Homo sapiens: one gene and its partner. The protein of the gene in region 2 purifies or fractionates together with the protein of the main gene of each other region. This does not show direct contact. Each region holds a gene or a part of one and is shown on either strand. Other genes may lie near its edges.

Region 1 (3,814 bases), on a different chromosome or scaffold from region 2:
GGGAGAGAAATAAACATGAAAAAAAAATCTGAAAAGTGTAATAATTCTTGTGAAACTCCTGCCAAATTAATCTCTATGCGGCAAATATCAGCAAAACTATTTTATGCTTTAGTGCAGATAAGTTTTTAAAGACAAGGCTCTACAGAGCCCTCAGTAGACACACACTCACGCAGAGACAGGAGACAGACAGCAGCTAGATAAAGCAGAAGATGGTTGCGTAGGCTCCAGTCCAGGGCAGAGGCACCTGTTCCCCTTGTCAGCCTGGCATGGATCCGCTTAACCTCCTTCAGCTCTCAGATATCACCCGACCTTTCACATCATGGGGCACTCCAGCCTCCCTCCCTTCTGTTCTCCCCAGCCCCCTGGTGTCTTCACGCCTCACCTGCAGCATAGGCAGCAGGGCCCTGTTAGAGGGCTGAGTTGGTGGATGGACGTGGGCAGTCCTGGGAACCTTCCTAAAGCCAGTTTGCATTTGATGTTTCGGCTTATTCTTCGTAGGAAGTACAGTGACGTTTGCCATGTTTTTCAGACACACATGCTCGGACATCAAGAGTATTCTTCTTCACCGCTATTTCAGGTGCCAAGGACTTCAGGCAGGGAGCCCTCAGCTCCTTCCGGGAACCTCCCCCACCGGGGACTGCAGGGCCCTGGGCTGGGTTACCCCACCAGCTCCACGGAAGACCTCCAGCCTGGCCACTCCTCGGCCTCTCTCATCAAAGCAATCCGCGAGGAGCTCCTCCGGCTCTCCCAGAAACAGAGCACCGTGCAGAACTTCCACAGCTGATCGGCCTCGCCTCGCAGATTTGCCAAGTATCCGCTTCCTGTGGAAGCAAGACCAAAAGGAAATCAACTGAGTGGGTGTTTGGAAGAGGAAGGAGCAACTCTCGGGCAGCCTGCCCAAGGGAGGGAGCAAGTTGCAATTTAGAAGATGCCATACGTCGTGTGACAGCTCATGAGCCTTTCACTGGGCTGGCAATTGTCTGAACACTTGGGTTCAGTTGAAATATATGTATTTTGGCCAAAAGCCAGCAGCACTTCACAAAAACAAAACACAAACCTAAGCTAACAAAATGACTGCATTCGTCTCTTTTTTAAAGGTAGAGATTAAACTGTATAGACAGCATAGGGATGAAAGGAACCAAGCGTTTCTGTGGGATTGAGACTGGTACGTGTACGATGAACCTGCTGCTTTGTTTTCTGAGAAGAGGTTTGAAGACATTTTATTAACAGCTTAATTTTTCTCTTTTACTCCATAGGAACTTATTTTAATAGTAACATTAACAACAAGAATACTAAGACTGTTTGGGAATTTTAAAAAGCTACTAGTGAGAAACCAAATGATAGGTTGTAGAGCCTGATGACTCCAAACAAAGCCATCACCCGCATTCTTCCTCCTTCTTCTGGTGCTACAGCTCCAAGGGCCCTTCACCTTCATGTCTGAAATGGAACTTTGGCTTTTTCAGTGGAAGAATATGTTGAAGGTTTCATTTTGTTCTAGAAAAAAAAAATCCCTCCCAAAGTGGGGCAAAAAGCTTTATATTTATTTGATTATCCAAAATACAGATCAAAGTTTAGATCTACATTCTTCATTGTATTTGCTGTTTCTTAATTGGGCACACACAACTCCTGGTCATGTCCCAGTTCAGCACCGATCGCTAAGGCCGATCCTGTAGAATGCGGCTTTCAAGAGGTCCTAACTGATCCTTTCTTCCACTTTGCTGTTGATTTGTTCACAAATTATGTCTGAATGAGAAATCTTCTGTAAGCAGAAGTTATTTAATAATTCCCAGCACCACGAAATTGTTATACATACATCCCTACCAGTCACATTCCCTGTGTTCAGAGCCTGGAAATGAAATTGAGTTCAGTTCAGCCTCTCTGTAATGAATCAAGAAATGTAAAAGAGCTTTGAGACCCCAAGGGAAAGGAGAGAGTTGCTTCTCATTTCTGATTTTATTGTGCTGTTACTCTGTCGAGTGGCTATTAAAATTGTCTTATGCTCTTTGGGCTAAGAGGGGATCATCTCGCTTAAGATGTACTCCTGATGTAAACATTTCCCCCACTTTCCAAATAATGGTAAAGAAAACAGTGGCAAGGGCTGTTCTGTTTTCTGGTACCTGAGTGAAACTCAGAAGAAAAGCAGGCTTAGCTAAGAGATTTTCACTATTAACCTGTTTTTATTAGATCAGCGAAGACAGTCATGCATCGCTTAATGATGGGGATGCATTCTGAGAAATGTGTCATTAGGCTGTTTTGTTGCTGTGCCAACATCCTAGATTGTACTTACACAACCTACATGGTATAGCCTACTACACACCTGGGCTGTGTGGCATGGCCTATTCCTCTTAGGCTACAAACCTGTACAGCATGTTACTGTACTGAACACAATGGTAAGTATTTGTGTATCTAAACATAGCTAAACATAGAAAAGGTATGGTAAAAATACAATTTTATAATCTTATGGGACTACCATCAATATGTAGACCGTCATTGACCAAAACATCCTGATGTGTGCATGACTGTACTTTTCATTAAATAACAGATAAGGGGCTATAGAATTTGGGGCTCTGACTGATCAAAACCTGTGTATCTGTGTCAAGTTTTAAGACCCCTGAAACAGCTAAAACAGGTTTCCAAAGTGTAATCACTGGATTTCAAAACCATGTTTTAGCCCTTCATTAATGAAGCCTGTTGTACAGATTTAGAGTCTTACAATATGAGGGAAGTTGGTTCTGGGAAGGTAAGATGTAGCCAGTTTTCATCTGGGCACCTCTGAAAGAGAAGGAGTGCAGGAGAGTAAGTCTCTCAAGGACGTTCAACAAAGGACCAGCAGCATCTTATCAGGCGATCCTCAGAGGCTCCAAGGAGCATTGGAGAGAATGCCCCTTTCTGGGCTTGATGTCTTGGTTTTGGTTTAATACCAAATTTCTCTTGGTCTTGGTTTAATACCCGACTCCTCCCAAATTGAACGATTATCTTTGTATGTCACTCAAAAATACCAGGTTTCCTGAATATGTTATTAAGAATTTCAGATATCCAAGCAGAATTTTATTATGGACACCTTGTAATGAATTCAAATCGTGTGACAGCAAACGGGATAAATGGCCCCTTCTCACCCAGTTCCGCTCAGGGCCATACAGGCTTGCACATAGAGTGTGCTAAAAATGGTAACCTCCTTTGAGCATTGCAGAAAGAGGGTTCTGTTTCAAATTGGGCTGACCGTAAAAGCAATTTTGATGTCTTTCAAACTACCATAAAGGGATTTTAACTGTATTTTTATTCTTAGAAACAATACACCTTTAAACAGATGTCAAGACCAAAGATGATGTATAATAAACAGCCGGTGGTTATGGTGTGGTGTGAGCAGGCCCCCGGATCACCAGCCCTCTGCTGGTGGTCATAAAGCACACACAGTTTGTACTTGCTTCCTCTCGACGCCTGCCACAACAGTTTTGCCAGTCACCAAACTCAGAAAAAACTAGCTGTGTGAGCAGCACCGTACCCTAGCGGTCTTCAGACATTAAGTTCACGTCATCCACTGAAAGGAAGGGTCCTTGCGTTGACAGCGTGTGGCTTTGGAGTCCGTTTATGGAAGCACTCTACAATGAACAGTTGAATTTTATGTCTATTCTTTTTTCCTATTTTAAAAGTTCTAGTGGTAACACAAACTGTAAATTTGAGTCAGAATGTTTGGAGAAATGTTGTTTTTTTTTTTTTCAGAGACTACTTTGTCACTCACTGACCATGTCTGGTTCCTTCTCTGAACTTCATTCTCCCCATAAGCCAAACAAGAACAGACCTCCCCCGCCACCTC
Region 2 (4,393 bases):
AACATCCCTTCTTGCTGCACCATGGATCCTCTCTATATTATGGGTGAATACTATGGATCCTTTCTATATTATGGGTGAGAAAACTGAGGCTCCAAGACATTAAATAACATAACCAAAGTTTAACAGGTGACTGGTAATGCAGAAACTTAACCTAGATAGTCTCATACCAAGGCCTATACACTTTCCCTCATTCTAGGCTGCCTTTAATTTTGCTGCACCTTCTGAAAGCTAATAAAATCCACCCAAAAGGCAAGGTATAAGAAGGGCTTGGTAAGTAGCACAGCTGCCCTGGGTATACTCTTAGAAGGGAAACCAAGAGGGCTGCAAAGAAGACTCTTCTGCACTGGAACTTGGGACACTCACCTCCTCTTTCAGCCCTAACTCCAAAGGCTGTGAGGTGGGTAGGCCCCACAATGGAGATTAAAAGGCTTGTCCTCTACCACGTATTTCCTTATTATCTAATTAGAGCCTCTCATCCACCTGTCAAGCAGATATCATTAATCCCATTTGACAGATAAGGATGTTGAGGGTTAGTTAGAGCCCTTAGTGCTAAATCCATTGCTTTACAGTAGGCCAAGCTACTGCCCTACCCCTCCCCATGTCTCCTTAAGAAGGGACTTCGCTTTGTAAGCACTATTTCAATATTAATCTCTCAGGAATCCAACACTGATGACCCATGAGTCCAGGGGCCCCTCTCGGACTCAGGACACATGACCAGCTCTCCCCACTTAGGTTCAGTGTGGAAGGAGAACCAGGAGGAGATTCATTGTCAGTGTCACTATCTGGGCTAAACACACAGAATGTTTCATGCCCAGAGCAATGGAGTGAGGGCCTCTGGCGCTGCTGTCAGCCTCTGGGAATATTTAGAAAAGAATGTCCCTGGAGAGAAGCCCAGACATACCTGGGAGCCTCTGGCTCCTCATCCCAGGCACAGAGAGGGAAGGCAGACCTCAGGGGCAATGCTGTGGCTGGCAAGGACTGGAGGAGCTTGTCACTTGATTCTTAAATAGAGTCCCTTCCCTAACACTTAGTGAGGGTAGTAGCCCCAGCATGACTTCCACTCAAATTATCTGCATCCACTGTGCCCCACACCTTGCTTGTATTTAATAAAGCAGATGAACCCTTGCAAGGTGTTGGTCACTCTTCTTAAAATGGCCAAGATGAAAATGGAAAGATGAGAGAGAGCAACTTCTAACTCCCAAAAAGCCAAGTGAGCCCTCACCCCACCCTGGTCACTCAAGTCAGCCTGACCACCTAAAATCACCCCTAGGCAGAGTTCCTAGGTTTCAGGTCTCTGCTCCTCCACTTCCTGAGTAGGACCAGATAAGTGTTCTAAAGATCTGCAAAGCTGCACCTAGTTACCAGTTCCCTGTAGAGCTATTCTGGCTGCAAGCAAATGTAAGGCAAGGGAAATGCCCAAAGTGGGATTTTGATCAGTGTACTCATTTTTTCAATAATCATTGACGGACTTCTGTGCCAGACTCCACTGAGTACCAGAGATATCGTTCCAGCCTTCCAAGGATGGGGAGAAATTGAGACAAATATGCAGCCATCACAGCACATTATGATAAATTCTGGGACAAGGGGAAGCAAAAGGGCCTCAGAAGCAAAGACAACAATAGCTCAGCAAGCTTTTTAGGTTCCAAGGGCTTCCCTGAGGAGGTGACATTTAAGCCATGGCAGTGGCGGGACCTGCTGCAGGCAGGTAATGGGGCAGTGACACAGGCAGTTAATGGGGTGGGGCACAGCAGCATTCGGTTAGACAACAAAAACATATTGAGTGTCAAAAACTGGAGATGAAACAGTAGATAAATCAGACAAGATGATGGCTTTTATGGAGCTCATATAACACGAGGCCAATAATGAGAAGTAAACAAATAAAATTTCAGTTGAAGATAAGGGCACGAAAGAAAGAGTGATAGGACAGAGGAAGATGGGTGCAGGACACTCATACTGGAGACAGGGGTCAGAAAAAGCCTCTCTTAAGGATGTGACATGTGATGAGAAAACACCAGCCATTCTAAGATCCAGGGAAAGTGCATTCCAACTGTGGGAGACAGCAAGAGAAAAGCGTCCCCCAGCAAGAATGATATTGGGGGATTCATGGAACAAAAGGAAGGTCAAGGTGGCCAGAGCATCAAGAGCACAACAGAGTTTGAGAAGATGAGGCGGGAGGAAGGCAAGGACCTCATCAGGTAACAGGGTCTTGCAGGGTATGGCAAGGAGCTTTGGTTTAATTCTGAGTGACTTGGGGGAATTTCAGCAACAGAACTTATCTAGTTTGTTTTTAAAAATACATCCTGGCTAATACAAAGAGCCAGAGAGAAAGAGAACAGACCTTGTTTGGAAAGCTGAAAGTGACTTAGTGTAGCTAGGGTAAAGAGTACAAGGCAAGGGGTGTTGCCGTGTGGACACTAATCTACTTTTTAAATGGGCTGAAGACTGAATCCTGATCCTAGACACAGACCAAGCTGAGATCGGAGCCCCAGGAAGATTACTAAGTCCCAGTCTCAGCCACAGCCTGACTCCTGATGTACAGCATACAGTGAAACCAACCTCACTCAGAGCCCCACTTCCACCCCAGCTGCAGCCTCATCCCCAGTCATAGACTGAGCTTCAACCACGTTCACCCTGTTCACACACCAAACCCCGACCCAACCCCAATGCAGCCCCAGTCTAACCCCAGCCCAGCCTGTCCTCTGTCCTCTGTCCTCATTCACATCAGCCCCTGCCAGCCTCCAGATGGGCATACTAGTAAACTAATCACTGAAAAACTGCTTGAAAACTACCCTTAGGCTACCTCCAGCACCCACATGCTTTCTGTTCAGCACACAAACCTAGAGATCACTAAGGCTGCCTGTCCTTTGAGTCAGGGGCTTCCTACACATCTCCCACTTCTGGTTCTTCACAGCCTGGCTTCTCATGCACTCAGCAAGTCTAACAGGAGACCCCTAGCTGCAAGTAACCCATGCACCTGGACATGCCCCTGGCCTCCTGCACTCACCTCAACCGTATGGAAGGAATGTGTGACCCCCTTTGTCCAGTCTTCCTCCAGAAGAGGTCTGGCAGGCTGCACTGAAATACAGCCTCTCTGTCTCCGCCTACTCCCTTGGACCTCCCTGGTCAGGGTTATTTATTCTCTGCCTCACCCTCTCCCTCCTTCTGCTTCTTCCTGCAGGGTGGGGCAGAATGCTGTCCAAAGGGTACATCAGCAGGTACCCCTCACTAGCCCACTGTGGTTCTGGACTGCTTCTCAGCTTCCGTGCCCTGGGAGGATATGCCTGGGGGTATGGGGAGGAGAGGCAATGGGGAAAGGGATCTCTAGAGTCCTCCCCTGATGGGCTGCTGGGATCCTCATGCCAACTCCCAATGTGAAGGATAGATAGGGAAAGTGAGTAGAAAAAAGCTAGAAGAAACTCATTAGTGTAGTCTTCGTGACGGTCTTTATCCAAGTCTCTTCTCAGGTTTATCAAACTCAAACAGGAGAATGGCAAAGGAAGTTTGCAGAGACACTCCACGGTTAAGTGTCAGCCCATTTCCATCCTGAAGTGTTCTTTCTGTCCTCCCTTCTCTCATTTGGGGGACACTGTTTAGGTCCTTGCTAAGCGTGGAATTCACTGGGTCCATCCTCCTTTTCCCAAAGCCCTAGGGCTACATCTTTTTTTGTCTCCCAGGCTCTGGTCCCTGTGTCTGGATAACTTATAACCAAGGTCCCCAGGGACAGTGCCTCTGCCGTCCACTCTCTGGCCTTGGATTACTGAACTTCTGGCTGAGGACAGAGAACGTGGTTTCTTTAACCCTCCCCACCCCCAACACCAGCCACGTAAGACCAATGACATCTGGTTTCTCCCTTAAGGGCAAAAATAGTCAGAGAACATTTTAGAGAGTTAGAGAACAATTTGAATGTAAAACTAAATACCTCGTATTTTGAAATAAGTAAAAACTACATCTATAAATAGAACAACATGGTTTTTAGTTGGTCTCCCCTTATTTTTTACTGATCAGTTTCACAACTGTGAGTTTTAAATTCAGAACACAGGACACGCTAAATCAAGCTATGTTAAATAGATCATGGCAAATCAGACCATTCTAACTCAGACCACATCAAAATTACTGGTGACAACAGTTTCTGGTGCCTACAGAGCACGCAGCCTGACACTTGCTATCAGAACCCTGGAGCCATCTCTGCTGCCTCCATTAACCTCATTAACTTAGACATGGCAAAGACTTTAAAAAATACCAAAGGGACTTCTACTTCCATCCAATATGGAGTAACAATGAGACATGTGGAAGGACAGTGAGACATGAGACAAGGTGAATAATGAGGTGAATGCTACAGTTTTTTCAGCTTCCTGCCTTAAGGGAGTTTCCATGCGGCAACAGAAGGGAGATT

Evidence for each region.
Region 1: the proteins of OR51E1 (region 2) and KIAA1549 purify together in Homo sapiens (affinity purification with mass spectrometry; one large-scale study listed by BioGRID and IntAct). This does not show direct contact.

What each region holds. Positions count from the first base shown.
Region 1 is NC_000007.14:138,834,876-138,838,689, reverse strand, and holds part of KIAA1549 (UPF0606 protein KIAA1549), read left to right. Parts: intron 1-529; coding exon 530-784; 3' UTR 785-3,814. UniProt on the Homo sapiens protein: May play a role in photoreceptor function.
Region 2 is NC_000011.10:4,642,642-4,647,034, reverse strand, and holds the start of OR51E1 (olfactory receptor 51E1), read right to left. Parts: upstream 3,054-4,393; 5' UTR 3,005-3,053; intron 1-3,004. UniProt on the Homo sapiens protein: Odorant receptor.